Regions from separate parts of the Homo sapiens genome. Here region 2 is linked to region 1. The links come from fine-mapping of genetic effects on gene expression. A gene starts in region 1. The other region holds a variant in brackets. All regions are shown on one strand. Distances are between the middles of the regions. Region 1 holds the start of CMSS1 (cms1 ribosomal small subunit homolog). Region 2 overlaps CMSS1 (cms1 ribosomal small subunit homolog).

Evidence for each region. PIP is the estimated chance that this variant, and not a neighbour inherited with it, causes the effect.
Region 2: its variant is the best candidate, but not a certain one, in a credible set for the expression of CMSS1 in T cells (TOPMed, PIP 0.51).

The regions. Positions count from the first base shown.
Region 1 is chr3:99,815,624-99,820,022 of GRCh38, reverse strand. It overlaps CMSS1 (cms1 ribosomal small subunit homolog), which reads right to left and starts at 2,161. Exons shown (of 10, transcript NM_032359.4): 1 at 1,980-2,161. The coding sequence starts at 2,043. HP09053 (a long non-coding RNA gene) reads left to right here. Exons shown (of 3, transcript NR_110821.1): 2 at 1,049-1,103; 3 at 1,551-3,391. It overlaps LOC105374010 (a long non-coding RNA gene), which reads right to left and starts at 2,161. Exons shown (of 5, transcript NR_189163.1): 1 at 1,980-2,161. RefSeq lists enhancers at 1,895-2,204, 1,436-2,310 and a silencer at 1,726-2,480.
Region 2 is chr3:99,958,207-99,962,605 of GRCh38, reverse strand. The region is part of intron 1 of CMSS1 (cms1 ribosomal small subunit homolog); the gene reads right to left. All of the region lies in intron 1 of FILIP1L (filamin A interacting protein 1 like), which reads left to right. All of the region lies in intron 1 of LOC105374010 (a long non-coding RNA gene), which reads right to left. Among named protein-coding and RNA genes, the nearest start is that of MIR3921, 4.0 kb to the left of the region's middle. The variant C/T (reference allele first, on the strand shown) is at 1,989.

The sequences.
Region 1 (4,399 bases):
CCAGCACTTTGGGAGGCCGAGGTGGGCAGATCACGAGGTCAAGAGATCAAGACCAGCCTGGCCAACATGGTGAAACCCCGTCTCTACTAAAAATACAAAAATTAGCTGGGTGTGGTGGCGGGCACCTGTAATCCCAGTTACTTGGGAGGCTGAGGCAGGAGAATCGCTTGAACCCAGGAGGCAGAGGTTGCAGTGAGCCGAGATCGTGCCACTGCACTCCAGCCTGGGCGACAGAGGGAGACTCCGTGTCAAAAAAAAAAAAAAAGAAAAAAAAAACTGTTGGTTGGTAAAACCCTAAAAAAGATGATCTTTAAGGGCTCTTTACAGATTATGATACAAAGGCCCAGAGAAGTCACAAAGTAGTAGCGGGAAAAGCGTGACTTTCAAAATCAATCACACTTGACTAAACTCTTCCCAGACCTCTTCTTCAATGTGTGTTCCTAAGAACACGACTTAACTTTTTTCTGTTTCTTCACCTATACAAATGAAGAGAATACTTACCTTTTCGGGATGTTATGAAAGTTAAATCAATTCATATTTATGAAGACATTTGTCACATAATAGATACTCAATACATGTTGACTGCCTTTCTTCCAACGGATGAATAACTTGAAAGTCACACAGCTAGTGAGGACTAGAACCAAGAATTGGGATCCCCTTCACCACTCAAACAGAATTCAACTATTTCTTAAATGGCCTCTGTTCATCTTCAATCATATCATAAAATAGAGCTTTTTAACACCTGAGTTGGGAGGGGTAGTTATTAAAGTAAATGTGGAACACCACAGGGCTGCAAAAGAGTCAGGAAGTTTAATCAAGGAAATGTTGTATTGGCTACCTTTCTAAAAATGACATCTGCTTAGTTTGTACCTGAAGGCTTGACCTTCCGGAAACAATGCAACAAATGAAGTTGGTTATTTTTAATGGATATTTCACAACTAGTATTTCAAGATTGTTTGCAGCAAATAGGTATCAAGTGTCTAACATGTGCAGGGCCCTGTGGATGACAGAAGTATGAATCTGACTTTGGCCCTGTCTTCTCTTGTAGAGAAAAGAGGCAGACCTTGAGGAGTGATAAAAACCAACCAACCAATAATTGCATGGTAGGTGTGATGGAACTTAAAAAGTTCAAGGCTAGCCTGACATGGGGGGTCACTTAACGCTACTCTACTTGGGGATGAAATGCCCACTGCATCAGGAGTTGGTAAACACAGCAGAGCATAGTAGAAACTATTCAAATTGTGTTAACTGAATTCTAGTATTGTTTCTGAAAGGAGCTAGCTTTGTGAACTTGTCAAGTTACTTGACATCTTTAGGTTATGTTTCTCATCTGTAAAATAAGTGAGTTCAAAGGATGATCTCTATTTAAGCCTCCTTCCAGTTCTACTATTCCAAATTCCATGATAATGATGATGACCACAAGAAATACAGTAACTTATATTTACCACACATTATATGTCAAGCACTATGCTAAAGTGCATTACTGTACTAACTTCACTTAATCTTCACAACTTTACGAAATGGACATTATTGTTATCATTATTTTACAGATGAGGAAAAGGAGGCTAAACAGTATCAGAATACTGGAGTCGTGATTTGAATGGAGGGAGTCTGAAGCAGCAACCCCTGCTTCTGACCTCAGTCTGAATTGAAAGCAGTTCATGGGTCACCCTTAACCATCATACAAAGTTGCCTCTCTTCACAAAAACTGTCTTATCCATTCTCAAGAAATAAGGAAAAGAGAAAGCTTGTGGAAAGGATCCTTCCTGGCTGGCAGACAGATCTGAGTTAATGTCACAGCTGTCTGTTTCACGTGTTAAAGAATCTCTTGCACCATTTTCCCCGAGATGCTTGCGCGCTCCCAAGGCGGTGCACACCCCTGCTGGGCAAACACCGCGATCGCCAGAAGCGACCAGGGCTGAGGCGCACGGAAGGGCTCCGGGAGAGGCCCCGTAGGAGCGCGGGCACAGAGTGGGTACCTGGGCTGCTGCCTGCTCCAGTCGGCTGGTTCTCCCACCACTCGTCTCCGAGATCGTCTGCCATTTCAGCTCAGGTCTCGACGTGGGCAGAACATCACGGGTAGGCGACCAGCTGCGGAGAATCACGTTGTCTCAAAGCCAGGCGGCCGGCGTAGCTACACGCGGAGCTCCCGCTAGACACTGTCGCCTCCGCCCCGCGGCGATGACGTCACACCTCTGCCCCGCCTCTCCGGCAGCCGCTCCCAGACTCGTCGCAGTTTCCACACAGGCGCCGACAGGCAGAAGCAGTTTGGAAACGCAACATAAATCCCCCCAAAGCTTAAAGACAAAAAGGAACATAAGACGAAAGGGATTGTCATCGTTTTTGATAATGCATTTTAAAAAATTTTGTTTACGTGTTACGTTTCCCGATAAGATTGTGTCGAAAGTGTGAGACACCATGTGAAGACGATTTTTCTCCGCTCAGTTTCAAAGAACTTGCGCAGCGGGAGAAGACCCAAACATGTGCGTGTGTTTTCGCTTGTGCGTCAGTGTTTCAGAGTTTATGTGTTTGTACAGTTTGCTCTTAGAAAACATGCGCAAGGATCCATGACCATGAATGTCGGGCCTTTGTGGTAAATGTAGTTCTGCTATTTATGCAATATGAGTAAAGAAAATGTAATTGGCCTGGAAAGGCTCGCCCACAGAAAGACGCAAGTGGCTCGAAGACCCGCAAGTTGTTTTCCTCATACTCCCTCGGTTGTGTGTCCCACCCCCTATTTGGGAAACGAAGTAATAAGGGAGTCCATTGCTTCGTAACTATAGGTAAGAGACCCGCAGTGCCTCTTGTCTCAGTCCCAACGTGATTTGGCAGGGAGGGACTAGGAAAACCCGCTGGGCGCCAAGTGCTGGGGCTAGCTGTGAAGTAATTGTGGACGGTATTTTTCAGGACATCAAACACAGACGTAAAAATTATACAAAATGTAGTAAAAGCACGCAACGTGCCTGGTACTATGCATGGAATAGTAAGATGAGTCCATTCAGATGTTAGCCTACAGTAGTGGAAATTCAATTTGTAGGAATAAAGGGCTAGACTTCTAATAGGATACATCCTCGGAAATGACAAGACAGGGAAACTTAATCTGATGAGGCTAGGATTAGCCATATGTGGAAAATTACCCCGTGTGCACCCAACTCATAGATGTTTTATAAATGCATTACTGCCTAGACTTTGTCCGCACACTCTAAATGCCCCAAAAGGGAAGATATTATGTATAAATATGGCAAATGTAAAATAATCTATAAAGATCAAAAGTAATATGGCTTTTGTGAAGAAATGTAGATGACGAGATTTTCGTGATTAATAGATTTTTGAAAAAGATAAGAAATGCCAGTGTGGAAGAGGAGTTGCTATGGCTAATAAACATGAAAAGAATTCAGTCTGATTATTAATCTGGGAAATACAAAAAAAACACCACAGCGAGACCGTTTTTCAGGCAATAAATCACAAAATTAAGAAGTATGGGCCGGGCGCGGTGGCTCAAGCCTGTAATCCCAACGCTTTGGGAGGCCGAGGTGGGTGAATCACCTGAGGTCAAGAATTCCAGACCAGCCTGGCCAAAATGGCGAAACCCATCTCTACTAAAAATACAAAAATTAGCCGGGCATGGTGGCAGGCGCCTGTAATTCCAGCTACTTGAGAGTCTGAGGTAGGCGAATTGCTTAAACCCGGGAAGTGGAGGTTGCGGTGAGCCGAGATGGTGCCATTACACTCCAGCCTGGTTGACAAAAGCGAAACTCGGTCTCAAAAAAAAAAAAAAAAAAAAAAAAAAGAAGTCTGGCAATACTAAATTATGGAGTGTCTATGCATTAATGGGAATTGATACCTGTTTTGTACCATGAACTATGAATGGTCTTACATTATATTCCACCTCGCCTCAGCCTCCCGAGTAGCTGGGACTACAGGCACATGCCACCATTCTTGGTTATTTTGTTGTTGTTTTTGTTTTTTGTAGATATGGCGTCTCATTTTGCTGCCCAGGCTGGTCTTTAACACCTGGCTTCAAGCAGTCCTCCCACTCCAGCCTGCCAAAGTGTTGGTATTAGAGGCCTAAGCCACTGTGTCCAGCCATTTTTTACATTTTTAAAGCATTGTAAGAAACAGAACAAAACAACAACGACAACAACAAAAACGTAAAGAAAAATATGCAGCAGAGACTGTAGCCCTCATATATTTACTATTTATTACTATTCCCTCATATATTTGCTCTAACTTTACAGAAAAAAGTTTACTGACCCCAGATTATATTGAATAGCCAACCTAAGTTGTAGCATCCATTTCTGTTCTGTTTGTTCTGTTATTAGTGAATTGGTTATTAGTGAATAGGCATCCTGGTTTATAAATCAGTGTATTGTAAAACCGTACTCTCCAGTATCTGATC
Region 2 (4,399 bases), 140 kb before region 1:
TATAAAAGCCACCAAAGTTTCTCACAGTCATAAGAATGTTAAAACAATATTATCTCTTCCTCTTCTTTCTCCAAACATATTGTTGCTGGAGAAATGGTCATGCTACTGAAAGAGCTATATCTGTCTAACCCTAATGACTGAATATATCCTTTCTCTAACAACAAAAGATAATATACAAAATATTCCAAAACCTAAATGACCTCATGCAGAACCTTTTATGTTGCCCATAGTAATTATGTTCCCAAGAGAACAATAAATATCCTTCCTGATGAGGACTGCCCATCATCTTCCACTCTCCCATCACATGCGACCTCATCTTCCCACTGTTAGCCCTGGTTTCTGCCCTAGCATTTCTGCATCTGTTTTCCCCACTCCTCACCTCCCACTTAGTGCCTCAACCACAATGAACCACCCTCACTTCCCTGAACTCACCACGCATCCCCTCACCTTCAGCCTTTCCAGCAAGCCAGTCCTTCCTGGAATACCTTCCTCTCCTCATTCATCTCGCTTCCTTGGGTAACTCATAGTACTCTTCAGGACTTTGCTTGTGTGGTGTGTCCTGCAGAAAAATTTCCCCGACATCCCTAACCCCCAATCAGCAAGGCTAAATTTGGGGCCCCTATAATAGCCCTTGCCACTCTGCTATTAATAGATCAGAAGTTCCTGAAGGGCAGGAATCACAGACTACTTGGTCCCTCAGTGCTTCCCTAGTTTCTAGCTGTGTCTAATGCATACCCGGTTTGTGCTCTACAAATGTACAAACGAACTATGACATAAGAAAATAGGTTGGCAGACCTAAAGATGTTTGACATCTAGAAAGGGGGAAAGGCAAGATCGGTGTCATTATCTTTAAATATCTACAAATGTCTTGGAAGGAGAAGAATATTCTTAAAAAATTTTTTTTAGACTAAATCACTTATAAAAGAATATTCTAAGTAGCTTCAAAAAGAGGCACCAGGGCCAAAGGTATCGGTTCCCAGGAGCCTTTCCAGCTCCCCAAAATAATATGGCAAAGAATGTCCTAAAATGTAAAACATGGGATACTTTGACCAGTATTCAGCTGCACGTCACTGGATGGGTTCACACATGGGCTGGCAAAATGAACTACATAATGCCTGTCTCCTTGCAAAGTTAAGATTCTGATGAATTAAATTATACTTCTGGGCTCCTGGGTATGCATATATAGCATAAGAGTCATTGTAGATACATAAAGGGATGATCAAAGGTTACATTTTAAGGTATATATATAAGCTTGCCACCCCATGGAGTATTGGGGTTAAAAAAATACTCAGAGGATTTCAAACAAAACAAAACAAAATAATCCAACCCACAAACCCAGCATTCCAACACAGGGGATAACACCTGCAAGAGGCAAGTCCGGATCCCCTCGGGCATTCTCCGCACCACCTCCCTCATCCTGGAAGAGGCAATTTAACTTTACAACTTTCAAGAAACTTCCTATTAGAAGTGGTTTCCAACTTTAGATTTATTGCATTTTCCAAGGTTACGTCATTTGGGCTGTGCATAATCCAGAGGGACTCAAGGGGCACACTGTAAACTGTGACAATAAATATTAACGAATATGTTCCTGATAAAACCTGCGATCTGCACACACGCATGCACACACCCACACAAAAAGGGACTTTTCACCTTATATGGTTACTTTTAAAAATAGACTCTTTTTACATTTCACTTTGTTGGTCTGCCAAACACACAGAGTACATTTACTTTAGAAACACCAATTAAAAATATTAACAACGCAAAAATATATAACCAGAGCTTTAGAGCCAAGGGCACATAAATTAACAGTATTCAATTCAGACAGTAAGTAAACATAAAATCAATAACAGAAAATACTACTTCATACAAAGGAAAGCAAGAACAATAGCCCTGAAAGTGAAAGTGTTCCTCCCCTCAATCCCAGTACCAGGACTCTGGACTCCCCTACTTCTCCCCTACCTTGAGATGTCAATCTAATGATTAGGAAG[C/T]AGGTAAAAAGACTGTAGGAGGGAGGGATAGAAGAAGATGCTAAAGAATGATTTGGGCAAGACCTACAGGAGGTGAGGAGGGAGATTATTTCACTTCACGCTGTAATCTTTTATATTCCTAATCAGAATGTTGCTTCTACTAGTGTTCAAAATCTTTGATTTTTCCCCTGTGGGTAGGGACAAACACTTGGGCTGCCTAATTGAGGAGCAGCTGTGGTAAAGAGGGCTGGGCTGGGAGTTACAGTGTTTGATCTGACATCCAGGTTCTGCCACTTAACTTTTTGGAGCCCTCGTTTTCCTCATCTGTAAAATGGGGATCCTAAAACCTACCTCATAGTGTTGTTGAGAGGAATAACAAAAACTAGGTGTGTAAAGGTGGCTACTCTAACTAGAAAAACACACAGAAACTGCCGTTTCCAAGATGTCAAACATCTTGGAGAGAAAAGAACTACTTCTCTCCGGTACTTGGCAGGTTGTGAGCTACCACTAATTTTTCAATGTTAAACTTAACCCAGGTCGGGATGGAGCCAATCGTTATAACATTGAGAGGCATAATGCTATACACACTTTAGACAATTTATAAATGAAGGAGGGAGGCAGGAAAGGAGGAAAGGTGAAAGGAACAGCTAGGCCTAACTCCCATCTTTTTTTCTGCAAGTGACAGATGTTAGCCATCTGAATGCATTGAATGCATCTCCTTTGTACAATGGGAGTGGTCTGAGTTTTAGTCCTACTACACTGAGTGGGCTGGGGGGCTCAGTCAAGAACCATGCTCATAATCTTACTGTTGGGTAATTCTAAAAAAATTACATTAGTACAATCCCTTCCTTTAATTGTTTTCTATACAATTATCCCATGTCCTCTGGGAGCTAATGTGATAATCCAGTGGAGACTCATTATTGCTCTATTTATTGGAGTCTGTTAGAAAATAAGCATCTTTATTACAACTAATTTTGTTCCATCTCTAAAAGGCTATAGCATTTTGGTCTACAGATTACTAAATTCAATTTATCAGACTGCTAAAGAAATTATACACGTGGAAAACTAAGGCTCAGAAAATTGATACAACCCATGTAATGAATTAGAGCTACACACAAATTAAATGACTTAATTCCTCTTCTTTTTAATATTTATATAGAAAATAAAATATTTAAAGTTTGAGGAAAATGGCCAGGCCCGGTGGCTCACGCCTGTAATCCCAGCACTTTGGGAGTCTGAGTCAGGCAGATCACAAGAGGACAGGAGTTCGAGACCAGCCTGGCCAGCATGGCGAAACCCCGCCTCTGCTAAAAATACAAAAATTAGCTGGGCACAGTGCTGCACATCTGTAATCCCAACTACTCAGGAGGCTGAGGCATGAGAATCACTTGTAACCTGGGAGTTGGAGGTTGCAGTGAGCTGAAGTTGTGCCACTATACTCTAACCTGGGCAAGAGAGTGAGACTCTGCCTCAAAAAATAAAATAAAAATAAAGTTTGGGAAAAATGGAAACTACTTGAACATTTACACAATGAATTTTTTTTAAATTACCATCATATCCTGATGTGTTTTCAAATTCTGTTACATTTATAACCTATTTCAATAATTTATCGGATTAAAAAAATGAAGGAACAAATAGTTACCAAGGCATGATAATTTGCTGTTTTTACACACAAGAATCCAGTGGTATAGAGCTCATTATTTCCATTTTAGAGACAAGAAAACTTGCTTAGAGACAACTAATAGCTTCCCACTGCCTAAGTGTAAAGCCAAAATTCTTTAAGATGCCAAACTAGTACAGCTATCTCCAGTTCATTTTGACATCTCCTCTGGTCCCTTCTCTGCCTGTTCCACTACATCACCAGCCTCTCCAAAACCTCAAGCTCTAGCCCCATGATCCACACTGCTGTTCCCTGAAGGAGCCCTGCTGGCTCATGCCTCTATGCCTCACACTGCCTGCTCTGCCCCCAGCTCTCTTCTTCTCCTGCAAGAGTACCAAGATTCAAACCAAGCTTCACTGGAAGTGTATTCTGAAATGTTGTCTAATTCTACTAACCGTAGACCCATGTGACCATTTCCCCGTGGAATTCCTCCTACCCTTCTGTGGCACATACATGTTATAATTCTTGTTGGCTCTCAAATGTCTCCTTTCTTTGCATGGTCCTTGAAAGGTGGGCCTGAGTGCTATGTAAGCACTTTCCTGCTGGGCTCAGTCACACACTGCCCACTGTAGCAGCTTTTTCATGGCTGGCATTAACAGGCCCTAGTTCTCTCTCTTCATGGCTCTGCTCAAGCCGTGGCAGTTAAAAATAGACCCTGGGTGGCTGGTTATTTTCCCTTTCTGTTACTGTTCTCTTAAATTCAAACTAAACCTCCATGTTACCTTCAAATAATAATAATAATAATAATAATAATAATAATAATAATAATAAT